2 separate regions of the Homo sapiens genome follow, and region 1 is linked to region 2. The links come from fine-mapping of genetic effects on gene expression. A gene starts in region 2. The other region holds a variant in brackets. All regions are shown on one strand. Distances are from middle to middle.

Region 1 (10,732 bases), 37 kb after region 2:
TTCGCATATGGAAAAGGTGGGACAGGGGAGGCTGAGAGAGAGCGAGCGAGCAGAAGAAAGTGAACAGGTGAGAGACAGAGTGTGGCCACTGTGGTAAGTCCTGGGATTTTGGAGAAAAAGCCGTGCTATGTGTGATGTCACCATTCTCATCCATCTCCCTGGGCAACTTCCACCAAGTCCACACCATTTGTCACTGCTTCCAGCCTTGGATTTCTTTTTATCTCAATGATGTGACATATAGGACCAGCCTCTGAGGTGCCTGCCAGGTAAAGGCTACCTCCATGAGGGTGGGGCAGGGCCAGTCCAGAGAGGCCTGGGGATGCCCAGATGGCAGTGTGGAGCCCTGAAATGAAGTAATGATGACTGGAACTTCGATTCACTGCACACACACACTGCCTCACTGTATGCTGAGGCTGAGGCTTCACTTTATTTTTTGAGACAGGGTCTCACTCTGTCACCCAGGCTGGAGTGCAGTGGTGCAGTCATAGCTCACTGCATCCTCCAGTTCCTGGGCTCAAGTGATCCTCCCACCTTGGCCTCCCAAAGTGCTGGGATTATAGGTGTGAGCCACCTCCCCGGACCCGAAGAATTTTTTTAATCCTACGTGTTATGGGCTGAGTTGTGTGCCCCTGCCCCTCACCCTCACTTCAATTCAAATAACACAATCTTAACCTCCCAGTACTTCAGAATGGACTGCATTTGGACTTTTATTAAAGAGAAAATTAAGTTAAAATGAGGCCATGAGAGTGGGTCTTAACCCAATCTGACAAGTATCCATCTAAGAAGAGCAGATTAGGGCTGGGCATGTTAGCTCATGCCTATAATCCCAGCACCTTGAGGGGCCAAGGTAGGTGGATCACCTGAGGTCAGTTGTTCAAAACCAGCTTGGCATTTAGAACGAGGAAACATTTTAGAATGAGGAAAGGTAGGAAAGGATACACACCAACCTTTCAATATTGTTAGGATCACAGCAGTGCAGGGTGGCTTGTGGAATTATTAACTCTTATGACATGTCACTGAAGAACAAGATCCTGTAAGTGAAATTGCATATCTGGGGGAAAACATTGAAGCTGCACATTAATGGATGGAATGAGAAATACAATCTCCAGTAACAGAAATTTTAAATGTACTGTTAATGAATTTTTTTTTTTTTTCAGACGGAGTCTCGCTCTGTCCCCCAGGCTGGAGTGCAGTGGCGCAATCTCTGCTCACTGCAGGCTCCACCCCCCGGGTTTACGCCATTCTCCTGCCTCAGCCTCCAGAGTAGCCGGGACTACAGGCGCCTGCCACCTCGCCCGGCTCATTTTTTGTATTTTTAGTAGAGACAGGGTTTCACCATGTTAGCCAGGATGGTCTTGATCTCCTGACCTCGTGATCCGCCCGCCTCAGCCTCCCAAAGTGCTGGGATTACAGGCATGAGCCACCACGCCCGGCCTGAATTTTTTTAAAGTAAATAAACTCTGACTTTTTTCCTTAGTAAATACAAATTATTAAGGCCACCTTTTAAAAAGAGCATCATATTCAAAACGTTCCATTTCACTCATGAGAAATTCAAATTTTACAGAAAACAAGATGTCATTTTTTAAAGAAACCTTTTTAAGGATAATTTTAGATGTACAGAGAAGTCGCAAAAATAGTACAGTTCTGTATAGCCTTCATCCTGGTTCCCCTGACATTAACATCTCACATAGTCATGGTATGTGTCAAAACTAAGAACCAACATTGGCAGTTACTATTAACTGAACTCAAGACCCCATTCAGATTTCACCTGTTTTTTGTTTTTTTTTTCCTTTCTTGAGACAGAGTCTCACTCCATCACCCAGGCTGGAGTGCAGTGGCATGATCTTGGCTCACTGCAACCTCCGCCTCCCAGGTTCAAGCGATTCTCCTGACTCAGCTTCCCGAGTAGCTGAGATTACAGGCTTGCACCACCATGCCCAGCTAACTTTTTTTGGTATTTTTAGTAGAGACGGGGTTTCACTATATTGGCCAGGCTGGTCTCGAACTCCTGACCTTGTGATCCGCCTGCCTCGGCCTCCCAAAGTGCTGGGATTATAGGCATGAGCCACCACACCCAGCCCAGATTTCACCTGTTTTTCCACAAATGTCCTCTGCTACCATATTGCATTTAGCGAGATACCACTTTTAAATTTGCAAAAAGAAAACACTTGCTAACAGACCATGCTGGCACAGCTGTGGGGAAATAGGCAGTGTCATGTACTGCTGGAGGGAGTGGGGTGTAGTCTGGCAATATTTATCAAAACAACAAGTGCCTACACTCTGACCCAGCAAGTTCTCGTCAGGAAATTATCCCAGTTTTATTTGCAATGGGTACCAGGAAGTGGCGCAAACATGTTTACTGCAGCACTCCTTGAAATAGTAAAAGACTGTCCAGAGACTGGCTGATACAATTATGGCATATCCAAACAATGGATTATCATGTACTGCTAAAACAAATCAGATATATACTGATACAGAGTGATCTCCAAGATACAATTAAGTGGAAAAAACAAAAACAAACAAGAAATGGAGGAATGTGCATAATATGCATCCTCTGGGCCAAAGAAAACATTTGTTAATATATGTCTACTTTATATCTGCAGAGGATCCATAACAAAGGTACCAGTTATTGCCTGCAGAGGGTTGTGGACAGAGATGGAAAGAGCCAGGTCACAAGAAGATGAGCAAAAAAACCCCCTTATTTTTCACTGTATATTGTTTTGTAATTTGAATTTTATACCATGTGAATATACTGCCCATTCAGACTTAAAATTCTACTTTTAAAATGCTCATTTTGATGCTTTTAATGGTAAATTCAAACCTTTATGTAGAACTATTATACCTAAGATATTGTTTTGGAAGATTTGCCTTTCCCTGAATGCTACTACATGCTATGAGGAATAAAAATAGGCTGAGTTTTTACTCCTCAAAACAGCCCTGCAAGATAGGCGCTGTGTGAATGGCATCTATTTTCTCCCCTACACCTGCCTTTCTATACTCTCCATGGTCAGGGCTGGAAGCCAAACAACTACATTTCCCAGACTCCCTTGTCATCTGACTCAGCCAGTGGGAGGCACTGGTGGGAGTTTGGAAGATATGAGATGGGGAAAGCAATTCTAATCTCTGGCTTCTGGTGGCACCCCAGGCCACAGCGGTGGTTCCAGTTGTGTGTCAGTAGTACCAGGCAGCAAGTGTGGCTCCAGGCTCCTGCTCAGCAGCTGAGGAATCAGTCTCTGGAAACGAATTTTCCTGTTGCTCCTCTAGCCTTGTGGGGGTCAGGCTTTGGGTGCCCTTGTTCTCCCCTTGTTTCTCATGCCCTTCCAACACCTTTGTAAACAATACCCTGTATTAAATGGTTTTTCCTCTAATTACACACTGGCTAATACAGATAAAATTACTCATATTTTACAGGTGAGAAACTGAAATTCAAATAGAGAAAGTGACTTAACCAAAGGCAAGCTAAGTACCACGCTTGTCTCATGATGCTCCAGCCACCTTGGTCCTAACCTTATTGGACCACCCCAGGCCCATCTGCACTGCAAAGCCATTGCATTAATTCGCTCTGCACAGAACATTCTGTCTTCAGTCCTTCGCATGCACACTCTTTCAAGTCCCACTCAAATGTTACCTTTTGATACAGTCGGGTTTTCGTTTTTAAGAGACAGGGTCTCACTCTGTCCCTCAGGCTGGAGTGTAGTAATACAAACATAGCTCACTGCAGTCTCAAACTCCTGGGCTCAAGAGATCCTCTCACCTCAGCCTCTCCAGTAGCTAGGACTACAGGCACGTGCCACCATACTTAGTTAATGTTTAAATTTTTTGTAGAGTCAAGGTCTCCCCATGTTGCCCAGGCTGGCCTCAAACTCCTGGACTCAAGCTGTCCTCCTTCCTCAGCCTCCTAAAGTGCTGGGGTTACAGGTGTGAGCCATTGTGCCCAGCCTTCAAATGTTACCTTTTTAGAGTGACCTCTTACCACCTGTGATCTCCAAGTCACTCCATTATATCATCCTGTTCCTTTTCTTCTTGGTACTCCTCTCTGAAAATATTTACTTAAGTTGTTTATCCCATTGGAATGTAAAGCCCGTTAAGACCCAGGAACAGTGTTTGTCTTACTAAACACCGTATCTCTGTGCCCAAGAGTACCTGCAGAGTATGCCTTCAACGATTTAAGAATGAATGAATGAAAAGTGTAGTAAGAGAAGTAGCAGATTACTTTGAGCACCAGCGAGGACATGCCTTTCCACTGGCTGCCTTCATACAGCAGGACAGAGGGCTCACGGGAGTCTCCACCGCAGGACAGCCCCCAGGAACTAATTCCCACCACTCAGGCTGTGCCCTCCAAAGGTGCTCAGCTAATACATACTGAGTCAATCAGGCTGCCTATGAACCTTCCAGACAACCTCCGTGCATTAACAGTAATCAGGAGGAAACACCGTGAGGATCTTAGACCAAGTTGGCAGATTAGAAGCAGACGGTCATTCAGAAGTTAAGGGGAGAGTAAAAAGCTGGAGAAATGGGATGTTCATTAGGGCCACAGTTGTTTCAGCATTTACATTTACTCTATGCACTAGACCTACCTCCAGTGCTTCTGGAGAGGCACAATGGCAGAGTGTAATCTCTGTAACTGGACAGTCTGGGCTCAAATCCTAGCACTTTCCTGGCTGGCAGTGTGAGCAAGTCACTCAGGTCGTCTGTAAGTTGATTTCCTCATTTACAAAATGAGATTGTTGATTAAAAAAAAAAGTGATACTATTATTAAGACAGAGTCTTGCTCTGTCATCCATTCTGGAGTGCAGTCGTGCGATCTCAGCTCACTGTAACCTCCACCTCCCGGGTTCAAATGATTCTCATGCCTCAGCCTCCCGAGTAGCTGGGATTACAGGCGTGTGCCACGATGCCCGGCTAATTTTTGTATTTTTAGTACAGACGAGGTGTCACCATGCTGGCCAGGCCGGTCTTGAACTCCTGACCTCAGGTGATCCACCCGCCTTGGCCTCCCAAAGTGCTGGGATTACAGGCGTGAGCTAACGCACCTGGCCAACAGTATCACTTTTATACAGTTGTTGTGAAAATCAAGATGTAGATCACTTAAAATATAAAACAGCACTTGGCCTCCATACACGTATCACCTCATGAAATACCGCAATCCTCTGAGGGGAGATACTATCATCCCATGATACAAACCAGGCAGCTGAGAAACAGAAGTTACACAAGCAGCCCCTGAGCCAGAAGTGCGTTCTAGAATCCCTAGTATACCCTCTGAATCACCACACTGATACAAAGAAAAGACAGCCATATCCGCAGTGTCATACCATGGAACTGTTAAGAGGTCTCCAGCATGAACTACGCTGACACTTGGAGGCAGGGCTGTATGACTCAACAGGAAGGCCAGGTACTTTTTAGAGACCAGACAGGTACAAGGTCTTGAAGGACAAAAGTTGGCTGGGAGAGCTGGGCACCGTGGCTCATGCCTGTAAATCCCAGCACTTTGGGAGGCTGAGGGGGATGGATCATGAGGTCAGGAGTTGGACACCAGCCTGACCAACATGGTGAAACCCCGTCTCTACTAAAAATACAAAAATTAGCTGGGTGTGGTGGCACCACCTGTAATCCCAGGTACTCAGGAGGCTGAGGTAGGAGAATTGCTTGAACCTGGGAGGCGGAGGTTGCAGTGAGCCAAGATCGCACCACTGCACTCAAGCCTGGGCGACAGAGCAAGACT[C/G]TGTCTCAAAAAAAAAAAAAAAAGTTGGCTGGGAGGTAAAAGCATTTTAGGTAAAGCATAGAACATCTACGTATCTGCAAACCCTCTGAATTTACTAGCCTGGCAAGTTCCAGACGGGAAAGGTAGGCAGTTGAATTTGGAGAGCTAGGCAACTTCCAAACTAAGGAGGGGCTTCTTGATTGTGCTAAGGAATTTGAATCACACACTGTAGGTGATGAGGGACGGTGAGAGGATTGCAAGCAGCTAAAACTGTGGTAGAATGTCAGCTGGAAGGAAATCGAAAGGAATCCTCAACAAGGAGAGGGTCGCCTTTCCGTCTGCTGGCCCTCCTGCTGTGGCCTGCGGCGGGGTGGGAAGGGGGGTTCCACTACACAGAAGTGTGACGCGCAGGGCTGGGCTTCTTCTAGGCTGAATTCGGGACAGATTTTCGCATTTGTTTTGCTCAAGTATTTATGGGACCAATTAATATGTTTAGCAACGTTGTCTGTGGGAGCAGTAGAGGAACTGAGAAGTTCACAAACTGTAAGAGATCCTCCAAAGAGTCCACAGGTCTGAGGCAGCAGCACCTGGGAATCTCTGGGCTCCAGTTAGTCCTTCCTGACTTTGACTCGTTACAGCAGTGTCCAGACAGGGATATGTCGGGTCCTGTGGCAGGGTTCCCGTCAGGTGGGATGGTTTAGCCCCGCATCTGCCTTCAAAGATCCCGAGATTATGCCGTCGCAGCGGCCAGGGCAGGAGTGGGTGCGTGGCAGGGACTGAGTCTAAGAGGCCTGGAGGCCCTGTCTAAAACAGAGCTGTCGCTGGGCCCTCTCGCCTTCAAGCAGTTATCATACAGCTATTCCCCTTTCTTGTTTTCAGACCCTCTCCTCTAACAGCCTGCACCTGCAAGCAGGGACCTCCGTGGCAGCAGGGACAGCGTGTCTGTCTCGGCCTCCAAAGTACCCCGGAGTCTAAGAGAACTGGGGGAGGATGGTGCGGGAGCAGCGCCCGCCTCCAAGGAGGGCCCGGGCGGCGCCTCCCGCCCCTCGGTGACCTTATGGGCCAAGGCTGTGAAGGGCAGGCGTGGCGACGCGGAGGGGCCCGGCGCTAGTAGCCCGCAGACAGCGCGGCGGCCCCCAGCGGGAGAGGCAGCCTGGCGGCCAGGACAGCGCGGCCGGGCGCCTCCGCGCAGTGCTCTGGGAGTTGTAGGCACTTGCCTCTCCTCTCTCCTTCAGCTACTGGCTCTCGAAACTCAAGGACCTACCGGTGGGTGGGCGCCTGTGACTCCCAGGCTGCGAACGCCGGGAACTCAGTTTCTTCAGAAATGCTCGAACCAGGACGGCTCCTGGAGTCCTCGCGCCCTCGCAGAAGGACTACGGGCCCCGGCGACCCCGGGGGCGGGGCTTCCGGCGCGCTGCCTTGTGGGCACGGTAGTTCCGCCGGGTCTGGCTTCCGCCTGCCGAGCGGCCCCGGACCGCAGGCCGGACTACACTTCCCGTCGGCCCGCCTGCTCTCCCGATGCCGCCTTGGCGCGAGACGTTGGCAAGCAGAGTGTCTCCAAGATGGCCGCTTGGGGAAGGAGGCGTCTTGGCCCGGGCAGCAGTGGCGGCAGCGCCCGAGAGAGGTGAGATCCAAGGGCTTGTTGCCCCCAGTGCAGGCGGCTCAGCGGCCGGAGAGCCCAGCGCGGCCTCCGAGGGCTGCAGCAGCCTTCCTTCCCTGGTTTCCCCGCGCTCCCCCTACCCTCGCCGGGCATACTGGGTTCCAGTTCCGGAGGATCCGGGATCCGGGTGGGAGCGAGGTCGAAGGCCTCGGCGGAGAGCTTAGGGGAAGGGGCGTTAGCCGGGCTGAGTAAGGTAGGCAGCGGCCATGCGGGGCGGGGCCCGAGGCCGGGCCGTGCTGAAAGGAACTGGCGCCCAGCGCAGGCCTCAGGGACCCGCCTAGCTGCCCGCGGGCCGATCGGCTGCTGAAGCACCCTTCCCGCCTGGGCACGCGCGTGGCCATCTCGGCCGCGGCCCCAGACGTGTAGAGGAAGGCAGGGCCCCCGGAGAGAGAAAGAAGGGGAAGCCTTCACAGAGCAGGCCGGCCGCGGCAGGGGTAGTTTGATCTGCACGTTTACTAGGGAGCTTTAGCTCCCGCCAGATGTGTCTCTTCCGAGCCCAGAGCCGGCCACTTCCTCGAGGGAAGATTCTGAAGACTTTTGGATGGTTCTGTGCAAGCGCTCCTGCCGTAGAAGTCCTTTAAAGTGACCTTTCCTAATGAATGGTGTGTGGGCAGGGAGCTAGGAGCGTGTTTCTTCCAACAGGGACCTCCATTTGAATAACTGATTTCTAGAAGATGAGATTGGAGTAGTTTCCGTGTTTCATGTTCAAGTTGCAGTTTTTGCATCTGGGAAGCAGTTTCAGCTAGTGGAAACCACTAGAAGCTGTTCAGCCACTAGAAATTTGGGAGAAGATGTATTGGTGGAGCCACCTGGATTAACTGTCCGCTAAAGCTTGATTGTTATAGCAGCGGTCAGCAAAAAAGGAAAAGTTTTTGTTTTGCTGGTTCTCCCCCTCCCCGTCTTTTTGGTGAGGATTGTCTAACAGAAAAGTTATCTTCCTCTCAACTACTCTGCATTATTCCTTTTCTGTGACTGATTCCATCCCGTGTTCATTGCTATTGCTTGCAGATGGCTTTCCCAGCTGGGAAGATTCTTCCTGTTTGGCAGTTGTGATAGAATCCTTTAGCTTGCTTGCACTTTATTCTTTAGCCCAGTTATCCAGCGTTGCCCATTCTGCATTTCCTCTTCCTTGGAAAAGCAGTGGTAAACACACTTTTGTTTTTCTAACTCCCGCCTGGTATTAGATTGGACCATTTAAATAAGTTACCTCAATGGTTTTCAGATGCTCTTAAAAACTAGCAAACATTTTCAAGATATTCAATGCAAACAGTAATACGAAATAACCTGTTTAGAAAACAAAGTATTAGAAACATACGCCCTCTTGTTGGACTAAAAGCATCTGAAAAGAGCCGAATAGGGATGCCTCAGGCAGGGAACAGGAGCCTTGCCAGCACAGGTTAAGCTTTTATTGATCTAAGAAAATAGATGCTGAGAATTGTTTTTGTTTTGGCTTGAGACAACTGTTTATTCAAAATGGATCTGCAAATTAGCAGTGCATAGGCTGGATCCAGTCCTTGACTGTTGAACCTCAACAGTTTTTAAGAGAATTTAAATTAGTTGCCAGCAGATTTCATATAAAACGCTCCCTGAAAAGCTGGGTAGTGGCTGACTCTTTTTGGTCGGGACAAGTGCTTGGTTCCAGTTCTTGGTTCCTCACCTGACAGCTTGACTCAAATCACCTGACAGCTTGACTCAAATCACCTGTCAGCTTGACTCAATGCATTTGCCTGCTTGGTCTCTGTAGGTGTTCAGGTTGCACCTTTGGCCTGGAACTGAAGGCTCTACTCACACACGCAGATGTTGTGTGTCAGCAGGAATGTGGCATTTGGTTTTGTAGTTTGGATGTCACCATCTACTCTCCTAGATAACGTGGTATGGGTGGAGACTACCTGTCTGTTTGCTCTTGCTGTAAACCCCTAGCCAGGTTCTGTTGGAAGAGTCATTTCCCCGAGCCCAGCTTCCCTAAGCTCTTCCCATGCTGAGCAGGGGATGGAAACATAACCCGCTGTGGGGCTAGCGAGCTGACTTCTGGGCATCCCTCCATTCCTGCTCAGTTGGTGATGACTGTTCAGGTGGGGCAGGGCGGATTAGCTGATGGCCCAGCACTCTAGATTATGAGATCTGAGTGTATTATTGGCTCTTATGACTGAAGTAGGCTGTTTATGGCTCTCTAAAATGACTTTGTTCCATGTCACATTCGTGCTGACTCAAATCTCAGCTCCATGTTATACGAGTGCTCTCTCCCGTTGCTGCTCACACCTGGTTAGCATCTGCTTTTGCTGAAGCTGAGGGAAACATTATCTGGTTTGGGGAAGGGGCTAGAACAGAGTGACACTTTGGGCACACTTGCCAGATTTGCCAGCGGCTACCAACTCTGAAGCATGCATTGTACTTAAAGGTCCCACCCAGTGCCAGACTGCCTGCAGTATTACTGCCGGCGCTGTGTGTTGGATGGTCCAGTTTAGCACGTGTAGCGTGTGGGTTCTTGCTTTACCTTGTTGAGTCTAGAACCACAGCTCTAGAATTAGTGCTGAATTAACACAGCAGTTCAGTAGTCACCAGCTACATGTGGCAATTACATTTAAATTCATTAAAATTAAGTAAAATGAAGAATTCAGCTCCTCAGTCTCACTAGCCACATTTCAAGTGCTCAATAGCCACTTCCGGCCTGTGGCTACCATATTGGACAGCATAGGTGGAGGACATTTCCATCACTGCAGAAAGTTATGATATGGACAGTGCTGGTTTCGACTAAGATAGGAGGGGTGGAAATAGCAAAATGGTAGTGCTTGCATGTTGATTTTTCTCTCCACTCCATTAAATCTAGGGAACCAACAGTGTTTGTAATGAAGAACATCAGACTCTGAGCTGTAACCTGAATTCTTGTCCAAAATTCAGCACACTGGCAACGAGCACATCAAACAGATTGCCACTTGTCCTGTCGGCGTCTTTGAGACACACTTGCCCATCTAGGAAAGCACAGTGCAGGTATCTGTGTTCTGCCACCGTGTGCCAGCCCGGACCAGCTCACAGACAGCCCTGCCTGTCTTACTTGGGCTGCTCGGCTTCACTGTCTCAGGGCCCCTGAACCTCCCAGAGCCCTCCGTGATTGTTGGAATGTGAGTATAGCTGTGTGCTCTTGAGTTCCTGTTTTTATAATCACGTGAAGATGTACTTGATCTGCTTCTGAGCATGATATGAGGCAACCTGGGGTGTGCAGAGGGCCAGATGCACGGGGCTAAAAGTTCAGGTTTAGCGCGAAGTTATTTGTTGTGGCCTGCCCCTCCCCTGGCTTGCGCGGCCATCTGCTCCAGCGTTTTATAGGCAGCCAGTTCCCTGGGCTGACTTTCATGGCTTTCCTTGCCATGCTT
Region 2 (10,732 bases):
GACAAGATCATGCCCCAATCCCTCCCAGATCAGAGTCCAAGCCAAAGTCCCCTCAATCCGCCTGCAGGACCTCTGGTCTCATCCCCTGTCCTCCAGGGTCTCTCTGTCCTAGCCACGCTGGCTTCCCTGTGTTCTGGAAACGCACCCCAAGGCCTCTGCACAGCCACTCTTTCTGCCCTTCCCCCTATACCACCTGATTCACTCCCTCACTTCCTTTAAGTCTTTTTTTTTTTTTTGACATCGAGTCTCATTCTGTCACCCAGGTTGGAGTGCAGTGGCACAATCTTGGCTCACTGCAGCCTCCGCCTCCTGGGTTCAAGCGATTCTCCTGCCTCAGCCTCCCGAGTAGCTGGGATTACAGGCATGTGCCACCACACCCAGCTAATGTTTGTATTTTTAGTAGAGATGGGGTTTCTCCATGTTGGTCAGGCTGGTCTCAAACTCCTAACCTCAGGTGATCTGCCCACCTGGGCCTCCCAAAGTGCTGGGATTACAGGCGTGAGCCACCACCCCGACCCCTCCTTCAAGCCTTTCATAAAAGACTCCACATCAGCTGATGTCTGTCCTGGCCACCCAATCTGAAACCATGACCTCCTCCAGGAGCACGCCCCTGCCCCCTGCTGAATCTCCCACTGGGCCATGTGAACGGCCAGATCATTATTTTCTTCTTTGCTTATTGTCTCTCCCCCAACTAGAGCATCAGCTCCTAAAGGGCAGGGAGTTTTTTGTTTTGTTCACTGTTGGGTCTCCTTATGACAGTACCTGGTATGCAGTAAGCATCCAATATTTGCTAAATGAACTGATGACTGACTGAATAAATGATATCCTACGTCTACAACCTGGTCTCCACATGGCCGGGTTTCGGCACATACTGCTTCCCCAGGGTAGGGAGGCAGAGCACATCCACTGACTCAGCAGACAGTAAATGCTCACTTGGTTCTTTTGTTTATCCTTGTTCCAGAAGGGATTTCTGCAAGGTGAAAAGATGCCAGTAAGCTAAGTATATTCAAAAGCAGGGGAGAAGAAAGGGAGCCAGAGACAAGGAAGACCCTGGCTTTTAACTGGCCCTGGTGTGTGCTGGGCTCTGCCAGGGACTGATGAGAGAGGAATCTGTCCTGGATCTAGGATAGCTGGGGAACAGACACTAAATAAATGTGACTGCAGAGATGAGGGCTTCCCAGAGGAGGTGATGTTTGGACAACAGCACATGCATAGGCCCAGAGGAGGGAACGAGTATGGCCGGTTCAAGAAATTTCAGGAGGCGCGGTGGCTCAAGCGTGTAAGCACTTTGGGAGGCCAAGGCGGGTGGATCACAAGGTCAGGAGATCGAGACCATCCTGGCTAACATGGTGAAACCCCGTCTCTACTAAAAATACAAAAAAAATTAGCCAGGCGCGGTGGCGGGCGCCTGTAGTCCCAGCTACTTGGGAGGCTGAGGCAGGAGAATGGCGTGAACCCGGGAGGCGGAGCTTGCAGTGAGCCGAGATTGCGCCACTGCACGCCAGCCTGGGTGACAGAGCAAGACTCTGTCTCAAAAAAAAAAAAAAGAGATTTCAGGAACACGTTCTGGCCTCCCTAAACCACTTAAGTGCTCTGGAGATGGAGAAGTCACCTGAGACACTCATGAGGTTACATCTTGCTTGCTCAGGACTGCAGCCAACATGACTCAGCTGAGGTCAAGGACTTACCTGACCCCAGAATCACTTTCTGTCTCCTTGCATGTAAAGACTCACTCTCTAGCCTTGTTTTGTTTACAAACTTCCCAATACAAGACACACTGGTTGAAATAACAATAAAAATATGCTAGCAGAGGTTAGTCTCAGTAAATATATCTGACAAAGGAATGGTAACTGAACAACAAAAATCACTCTAATGAATTTAAAAATTAAAAAAATTAAATTTGCGCCACAAAAACTGTGGCACAACAGTTGGCCAAAGTGTTCACAACAGGATATCCAAATGGCCAAGGAGCATATAAAAAGAGGCTCAACATCTCCATTCAACAGGCCGCCGCAAGTGAGAGCTACAATGTGATGCCACTTCACATTCAGAATGGCTAACTTGGAAAAGAGTGTACAACGAATGAAACTCTCAAAATTGTCAGCAGGAGTGTAAAATGGTACACCCGCTTTGGAAAAAGCTCTGGCAATTTCTCACAAAACTAAATATACACCTACTATAAGATCCAGCAAAGGCCAGGTATGGTGGCTCATGCCTGTAAACCCAGCACTTTTTGAGAGACCAACACAGGAGGATCACTTGAGTCCAGGAGTTTGATACCAGCCAGAGCAACACAGAGAGGCCCCCAACTCTATGAAACTGAAAAAAATTAGCCCAGGATGGTAGCACGCTGTAATACAAAATTAGCCGGGCGTGGTGGTGCATGCCTGTAATCCCAGCTACTCGGGAGGCTGAGGCAGGAGAATCGCTTGAACCCAGGAGGCAGAGGTTACGGTGAGCCAAGATCGTGCCATTGCACTCCAGCCTGGGCAACAAGAGTGAAACTCCGTCTCAAAAAAAAAAAAACCCATAAAATATATATAATTAGACTGACAAAACAGACTCTTTTTTTCCTTTTTTTTTTTTTTTTTGCTCACTGCAAGCTCTGCCTCCCGGGTTCGCACCATTCTCCTGCCTCAGCCTCCGGAGTAGCTGGGACTACAGGCGCCCGCCACCACGCCCGGCTAATTATTTTTTTGTATTTTTAGTAGAGATGGGGTTTCACCATGTTAGCCAGGATGGTCTCGATCTCCTGACCTCATGATCCGCCTGCCTTGGCCTCCCAAAGTACTGGGATTACAGGCGTGAGTCACCGCGCCCGACCCAAAACAGACTCTTTGTAGCACTAAGATAACAAATTCCAACCTGACTCTGGTATAGCATCGCATGACAGATAACAGGCCCCGAAGGAAATTAACGAATTTTACCCAAAAATATATTATTCGACTTATTTTGGAATGGCCCTGCAATGCCATCTCTTGTGGGGGAAATTTGCATGTGTGGAGAATCCCCCTCCCTTTCTGGGTCTTTTTCTGATTAAGGAGAGATTTGACTAAGAGTCTGACACCTTTTAAAGTCCTAAAAGAGACATTTACCATCTATTCTTTCTGAAGCCTGCTACTTAGAGGCTTCATCTACATAATAAGAACCTTGGCTTCCACACACCCCTCCTTATCTTAACTCGAGTATTTCTTTCTGACATCAACTCTTTTTAGGAAAAGCTTAACTCTTTCAACCACTTGCCAATCAGAAAATCTTTGAATTGGGGGGGTGGGGTGGGGGCGCGAGGTGAGGGTGGCTCACACCTATAATCCCGGCACTTTGGGAGGTCTAGGCAGGTGGATGAGGTCAGGAGTTTGAGACGGATGGATCGCCTGAGCCTGGGCAACATGGTGAAACCCCATCTCTAAAAGAAATACAAAAATATTAGCCGGGTGTGGTGGCCCATTCCAGTGGTCCTAGCTACTTGGGAGGCTGAGATGGGAGGATCAGAGGATATTCTCGGTAAATATATCTGACAAAGGAACGGCTTGAGCCAGGTAGGCAGAGGTTGCAGTGAGCCAAGATGGCGACACTGCACTCCAACCTGGGTGACACAGCGAGACCCTGTTTCAAAAAAAGAAAAAGAAAATATTTGAATACACCTATGAGCTGTAAGCCCCCACCACTTTCTGGATGGCCGAACCAATGTACACCTTACAGGTATTAGGTCTTTGCCTGTAACTTCTGTCTCCCTAAAATGTATAAAACCAAGCTATAACCCGACCACCTCCAGCACATGTTCTCAGGACCTCCTGAGGCTGTGTCCAGGGCCATAGTCACTCATATTTGGCTCAGAATAAGCTCTTCAAATATTTTACAGTTTGGCTTTTTTTGTCAACACAATGGAATAATTACTCAGTGGCGAAAAAGATGCAAAAACAGGGATGAATCTCACAGATAAAATATTGAGCAAAAGAAATTGGACATTAAAAGTACATATTGGACTGGGTGCGGTGGCTCATGCCTGTAATCCCAGTACGATGGGAGGCCAAGGCGGATGGATCACCTGAGGTTGGAAGTTTGAAACCAGCCTGGCCAACATGGCGAAACCCTGTCTCTACTAAAAATACCAAAATTACCCCGGCTTGTTGTTGTAGCCCTGTAGTCCTAGCTCCTCAGGAGGCTGAGGCAGGAGAATCGCTTGAACCCAGGAGGCAGAGGCTGCAGTGAGCCGAGATCAAGCCACTGCACTCCAGCCTGGGCGACAGAGAGAGACTCCGTCTTAAAATAAAATAAAATAGTATATATTGTATGATTATGTTTACATGATGGTCTAGAGAAACCTAATTAGTCAACAACACTAGAAGTCAGGGACAGTGGTTACCTCAAAGGGTAGGGCATTGCTTGGAAGAGGGCCCTAGGGAACCACCAGTGTTCTGTATTTTGATTTGGATGGTGGTCACACGGGTGTGAACATCAAGTTTGCACCGTAATTAGCAAAATATTAAAAGTAACCTGTATGATTCACTGCACAGCTATGGGCAACAGGAGTGCCCCTTCAGGTGAGCAAGAGGGGAGGGTGTGGCTCTAAGGTTGAGCCTTGAGGAGCCTAATTAAGGCGCCTTTCAAAGAAGTCTGAGCCCCAACAGTCCTGTGTGTCTTCAAGCAAGTCCCTGCCCCTTTCTGGGATTCAGCCTCCCCATCTATGGAGTGGATCCAGGGATCCCCAAGGCCTCTTCCCGCATTTACGCCTCTCTTTGGGAGAGGTGGCATTTCACTCCTATCCCAAACAAGGCTTCACAGGACAATTCCTTCCCAGTAGCCAGTAGCCACCCAGGCTGCCAACACGGGTGGGTGCGCACTCCTAGCACCAGTAGCCCCAGGGCTTCAGCTGCGTGAGAACTTATGCATGTCTTTCACTTGTCTTAGCCTCTATTTGCTCATCTGTAAAATGGAGTCAAGCATACCTATTTCTCAGGCTTCTGGTGATAAATCTCAGCGCAGTGATTACTGAGCGCCCTGTGCGCCAGGGCTTTGCTATACACAGGCCGTGCACACAGCAAGTGCTTAATAAATGGTGGCTGCCTTGGGGACGATTAGAATGTCCATACAAAAGATTGTTACGTCTTTTTTAGAAGGCTCCTTGCGGGGGTCCCAAAGTTGCACGTGGGACAAACGCAAGACGGAAAAGTAGCCGGCGCGGCGCGGCGGCGGCCCGTGTTGTTTTGTTTGGGGCTGCGAGAGGAACGCGGCCGGCGCGGCCCCTTTAAGAGGTGACTGGAATGTATCAAAACAAAAAGGCCGCGCGTCCACTGGCTGCGCGCCGCACGTGACCTCACAGCTGATTTCCTGGCCCCCCCCCCACCCTTTTTGTTGCTGCCGCCGCCGCCGAGTGTCACTTTCAGCGCCGCCGCCTGCGGTCTCCCAGGCCGTAACTACCCCACCGCCTGCCGCCTGCGCCCGCGCTCCAGCCCCGCCGCGCGCCTGACCTTTCCCCGCGCGCCCCGGCCCCCGCCGGCGCCGCGCCGCAGCCCCGCGCGCAGATGGCGCACTCGGCTGCCGCCGTGCCGCTGGGCGCGCTGGAGCAGGGCTGCCCCATCCGCGTGGAGCACGACCGCCGGCGCCGCCAGTTCACTGTCCGGCTCAACGGTAAGGCGGCCCCGGCCCGCCCCGACCTTTTGTCTGCGAGCGAGCGGGGCCCGCCGGGGCCGCCCCCTTGCTGGGTGCCTGTCCCCCGCGCGCCCGCGGCCCGGCTCCGGCCCGCCGCCCGGGAAGGCTGTTGCAAGCGCGCGCCGCGGGGTGGTCCCGGGCGGCCGGAGCTCCGGGCGCGGGCCGGGTTGTGCTCGGGGCCAGGTGGGGGCGCGGCCGGCGCTCCGGGAAGTGGAACGGGCTGGGCGGGGGCAGACTTCCCGGGAGAGCAGGGGCCAGGGCGGACAGGGGCCCCTGGAAAGGCAGAGGCAGGAGCTGGGGCAGCGCGGGTCCCCTGTCTCAGCCGCAGGGGACCCGCACCTGCTCAGGCCCACTTGTTCACGACTGTTGGGCACCCACTGAAGGCTCCTGTTTGAGATCCTGGAAAGTTGGTCAGCCGTGACCTGTCCCCTTCTGCGGGTGGTATATGGCTTCCTGCTGCCCCTGGGAATCTTAGTCTTTCTACACGGGGGAGGCCTGCGGACCTGGGGCTGACCGCGAAAGGGGCTTGTGGTCCCCTGGGGGGAGTGAGGGGCGGGGGGATGGCTATCACTATCAAGACTTCAGTGGCTCTGGGACTGGCCATTTGCCTCACTTCTGTGTGCCTTAGTTTCTCCCTCTCTGCAATGGGAATAATACCAGTGCACACCCCATTGGCTAGTTGTAAGGATGAAAGACTGTAACAAATGTAAAGGATCAGACCAGCTCATGGGGGATTAGTAAGTGCTGGTAAACGTGGCCCGATCGTGATTCGTGAAGCCAGAAAGCAAGGGCAAGTTCTCCCTTAGTGTAGAGAAGTTTTTGTTTTTTGAGATGGAGTCTCACTCTGTCGCCCAGGCGACACAATGTTCCTGTGACACAATCTCGGCTCACTGCAACCTCTGCCTCCTGGGTTCAAGTGATTCTCCTGCCTCAGCCTCAGGAGTAGGTGGGATTACAGGCACCCACCACCATGCCCAGCTAATTTTTGTATTAGAGACAGGCTTTCACCATGTTGGCCAGGCTGGTCTTGAACTCCTGACCTCAGGTGATCCACCTGCCATGGCCTCCCAAAGTGCTGGGATTACAGGAGTGAGCCACCACGCCCTGCCAGTGTAGAGAAGTTTTGATTAGCCCATCCCCCCTCAGGAGGTCCCACAGGTAGGAAATAGAACTACAAAAACAAGGGCTATGAACTCCCTGTGGCCCACCTCGCCCCAGTGGGAATGTCCAAGCTGGACCGGTCCTTAGGGGCCACTGTGCCCATTTTCAAGAAGGGAAGGTGGAGGGCCAGGAAAGGGAAAGGCTTGCGAGAGGTCAGGCTGAGAGTTGGGCAGAGCTGGGATGGCGTCCTGACTGGTCTGACTCCCTGAACGGTGGGGCTCCTGCGACCCACATTTGGCTTCAGCCAGGAGGGGCCTCTGCCAGATCTCCGATGCCATTTGGAATGTGCCGAGTGTCGAGCCAGGCCCCACTACAGCTTCGTGGATGGGACTGTCACAATACCCTGACAATGTTGTGACATACCACCCCGTGTTACAGATGAGGAAACTGAGGCTAGGGACCTTAGGAAGTGATTGCCCAGCATCACCCAGAACTTCACCATTGGCCCAACCAACCCTACACCACCAGGCAGAGGCAAGTCCTGCTACTGCTGTGGTGCTGGCAGGGCTCAGCTGGCCAGGACACTCGGGGCCCTGGCGACTCTGGGAGAGAGGCCTCATGGCTTTCAAATCCTCTCTTCTGAGGTTCCAGAGCGGCCTCTGGTTCCCTTGTGGGCTCGGGAGGGCCATTATACTCAGAGACAGAAAGAAGAGGGGATACGTTTGTTTTTTTTTTTTTTTTTTCTTTTTCTTTCTCTTCCAAGTGGGTACAGCCAAAGGACAGCCCTCCAGAGCTGGCCGTGGTCAGGGCTGGACATGCCCAGCCGTATTTCTAAACTTACCCCCTTCTGGAATTCACTGCCCAGATAGCTGACCACAGATGTGGCTGGGCATCTCCCCAGCCAAGCCCAGGGGAGAAAGAAGAGAGAGGCCAGAGGCCCCCAAGGGAGTGGCTGTGCAGCACAGGGTGGGGCTCTTCTGGGCTTCCAGGCCCCACTGGGTTTGGGTGTGTGTCTTGGGACCAGAGAGGGGTCGTCTGAGTCTGAGCCCAGGCCTCCCTGAGCTGAGGAGGACAACAGGCTGTGGTGTCATTCCCGACCTGTAAGGCAAGCCTGGAGGCTGGTGCTGTTGTGCCCACTGAGAGATATAAACACTGAGGCTGAGGGGTCAGGTAGCCCCAGGCTCCTGGTGCAGAAGTGTTCCTAGGCTGTCCACATAGCACAGCTAGGCTGATTCTCTTCCTGCGAGCTCTGGTTCTGAGTGAGGGAAAACGTTTGAGCACCTTTGTTTATTAAGCATTTACAGTGTTCTAGGAGGCCCTGGGCACCTGGAGTCACTTTATTTCATAGCCACACACCACAGGGAGAGGGGAAACTGCATTTCCCATATACAGATGGGGAGACTGAGGCATGGGGAAGTGAAATGACTTGCCCAAAGTCTTGCACCACAGAGGTGGAAGAGCTGTGATTCACCCCGCAAGTATTTGTTGAGCACCTACCATGTACCAAGCACTCTTTTAGGTGTCGGGGTCTCCTGGGGCTGACAGTTTAGAGAGGGAAATGGACAAGAAATAGAGTCAGTTTTAAAGTATCCTGGAAAACAAGGGCTTTCATGAGAGGTGCAGGGGGCAGAGGGGAGGCTGTGTTGGGCAGGGCTGCTATTTACAATCATGTGTCTAGGAAGGCCCCTCCCTGGAGGGTGGCATTTAAGTGAAGACCTGAAGGAGGCAAGAAACAGAGCTGCAACAGGGAAGAGTGTTCCAAGTGGAGGGAATAGCAAGAGCAAAGGCTCTGCAGTGCCTGCGATGCCTTGTGTGTGCAGGATGGGTCAAGAGGTCATGGGGAGCAGGTGGTGCAGGGCCTGGAAGCCGTTGTCCTATGGGCTCGGCTTTGACTCTGAGGCTCCCAGGAGGGTCCTGAGCAGAAGACAGATGGGATGCCCCAGCTCCCTCTAGCTGCTGCTCTAAGGGGAGCAAACTGTGGGGACCAGGACAGAGCAGGGAGGTGGTTACTTTACTAGTCCAGGCACTGCAAACAGGCGTGGGAGAAACGTCTAGATCCTGGACAGATGTGGAAGGAAGCATGGCTGTGACTTGCTTGTGGGTGATGAGGGAAGGCTTGAGCTCAGGCTTGTCTGATGCCATATCCTGGTTCTGAAATGCAAGCTTGTCATTACTTTATAGATGGGGAAACCAAGGCGCACAGCCTGTAGGCAGCTAAGCCAGAATCAAGCCCCCGGCCTCCATCTGAGGACGGTTTCTGAAGGTTGGAGGCAGCTGGAAGAGACCCCCACCTCCTGGGCAGCCCCTTCCTTAGCCTTCCCTTTCCCTCACAGGCAGGGCTGAGTGTCCCACTTGCTGCAAGGAAAGGAACACTTGAGGGGTGCAGAACCCTGGAACTTTCTGCGTCCTCCCTAACCCCCATTTTGCAGCCAGGAAGACTGAGGCCCCAGAGAGTCAGCTGCTGCCCCTGGCCTCCCTCAGCACCCCTGGATGCAGTGGAGCTAAGATCACAGCCCCAGGCTTTGGGAGGTGCTCAGATCACAGCCCCAATATGAGGCCGCTGGCTGTGTTGGGCTGGGCTGGACCAGGGTCCTCTGGGGAGGGGAGGGACGTATGGTTGAGCTTCTCCAGGCTCACAGCTCCCTCTGCCTAATCTACCAATGAACCACCAACATGTGGCACCTCCCTGATCCAGGCTCTACTTACAGAGGTGCCAGAAAAGCCGGCCAGGGTGTCTGCTTGTCCTTGTCCCGTGCCACAGCTCTGGCGCCTGGGCTCTGCCTCCGTCTACCTCAGTCTCCTCATCTGTATATTCGCGTTTTGATCTGCCAGCTCTCCTTGCGGGGTCAGTGTGGGCCGAGTGGAGAAAGCAGAGGTCAATGTCTTCTGCAGACTCCACATCTCCCAGAGGTCCTGCCCCTGTCCCCTGTCTGCAAGCTTTGGTCTTTCTCTGTGATCGCCTCCCCTGACAATTTCCTGGCCCCCTTTGGTCCCGAGGTTCAGGAGGGGCAGAGAGAGCATGGGGGTGCAGAGACCCAGGGACGGGTCCCCCACGAGCAGTGTAGCTTTAACTTTTCCCAAACCAGTCACGTGATGCTGGTGGGGTTCTCAGGCCCAGGAGGGAGGAGGGTGGTAGTGATCATCCAGGGACAGGTGAGGTCTCTGGGGCAGAGGGGTGTCAGGACTGGCATAAGATCACCTGGCAGAGTTGAGACTGGAACTGAGGGCCCTGCCCTGCCCTAGGCTTGCTCCTGTGGCTCCCAAGTGACAAGTCTTGCCCCCCTGTGCTAGTCTGAGGTCTGGAGTTCTCAAGGCAGCTCTTAGAGCTGCCCAGATAAGGGCCTGGGCCAGGCCCAGAGGCTATGCCTATGTCACTGTGAGCCGAGACAGCAGGATCCACAGTGCCCAGAAGTGAAAGCGTGGCTGACAGTGCTACCCTGGTGTCCTGCTGTCCCATCATGGGGGCTGCGGGTGGTCAGGGGAGGCTTCTGGGCACGTGACCTTTGGGCTCACCTGAAATGAGAAGGAAGGGTCCCCGGAGGCCCTGGGCAGAAAGGTGACAGGCAGGGGAGCAGCCACCAAGGCAGGGAGGCCAGAGAGGCAGCTGGACCCCAGGCATGTTTAGAAAGCCATGTCCACGGTCCTGCCGAGGGTCAGGTCAGATGAGAAAAGGTGAGGAGGAGCCAAGGACCTTGGTCAAGCTTTGGGGACTTGGGCATTTTCCTGGGATGTCCAGGCAGGTTTGGGGCAGGACAAGGAGTTGAGCGTGAGGACCGGTATTGCATTTGTGGCCTGTGTCATGGGTGTAACACTTGTGACTGGGTGGCCTTTGAAGGCCCTCCAAGGTGGGGTTCAGGTCCTGGCCAGATGCTCCGAGGTTGCTGCCCAGGAGCCTGGCTCCTCGCTGGCCCAGTGCCATGTGGTCTGGCCCATGTAGGGTGTCCATTTAAACTCGGTCTTTTCCTCACATACAGCCCCA

Evidence for each region. PIP is the estimated chance that this variant, and not a neighbour inherited with it, causes the effect.
Region 1: its variant is fine-mapped to the expression of NATD1 in whole blood (TOPMed, PIP above 0.99).

The regions. Positions count from the first base shown.
Region 1 is chr17:21,210,684-21,221,415 of GRCh38, reverse strand. TMEM11 (transmembrane protein 11) reads left to right here and starts at 7,255. Exons shown (of 2, transcript NM_003876.3): 1 at 7,255-7,325. The coding sequence starts at 7,264. TMEM11-DT (TMEM11 divergent transcript) reads right to left here and starts at 7,091. Exons shown (of 2, transcript NR_184102.1): 1 at 6,966-7,091; 2 at 683-1,051. RefSeq lists enhancers at 6,274-6,483, 7,254-7,353 and silencers at 6,644-6,913, 7,034-7,173. The variant C/G (reference allele first, on the strand shown) is at 5,723.
Region 2 is chr17:21,248,058-21,258,789 of GRCh38, reverse strand. It overlaps NATD1 (N-acetyltransferase domain containing 1), which reads left to right and starts at 5,380. Exons shown (of 3, transcript NM_152914.3): 1 at 5,380-5,631. The coding sequence starts at 5,526. RefSeq lists silencers at 5,379-5,488, 5,639-5,758 and an enhancer at 9,249-9,750.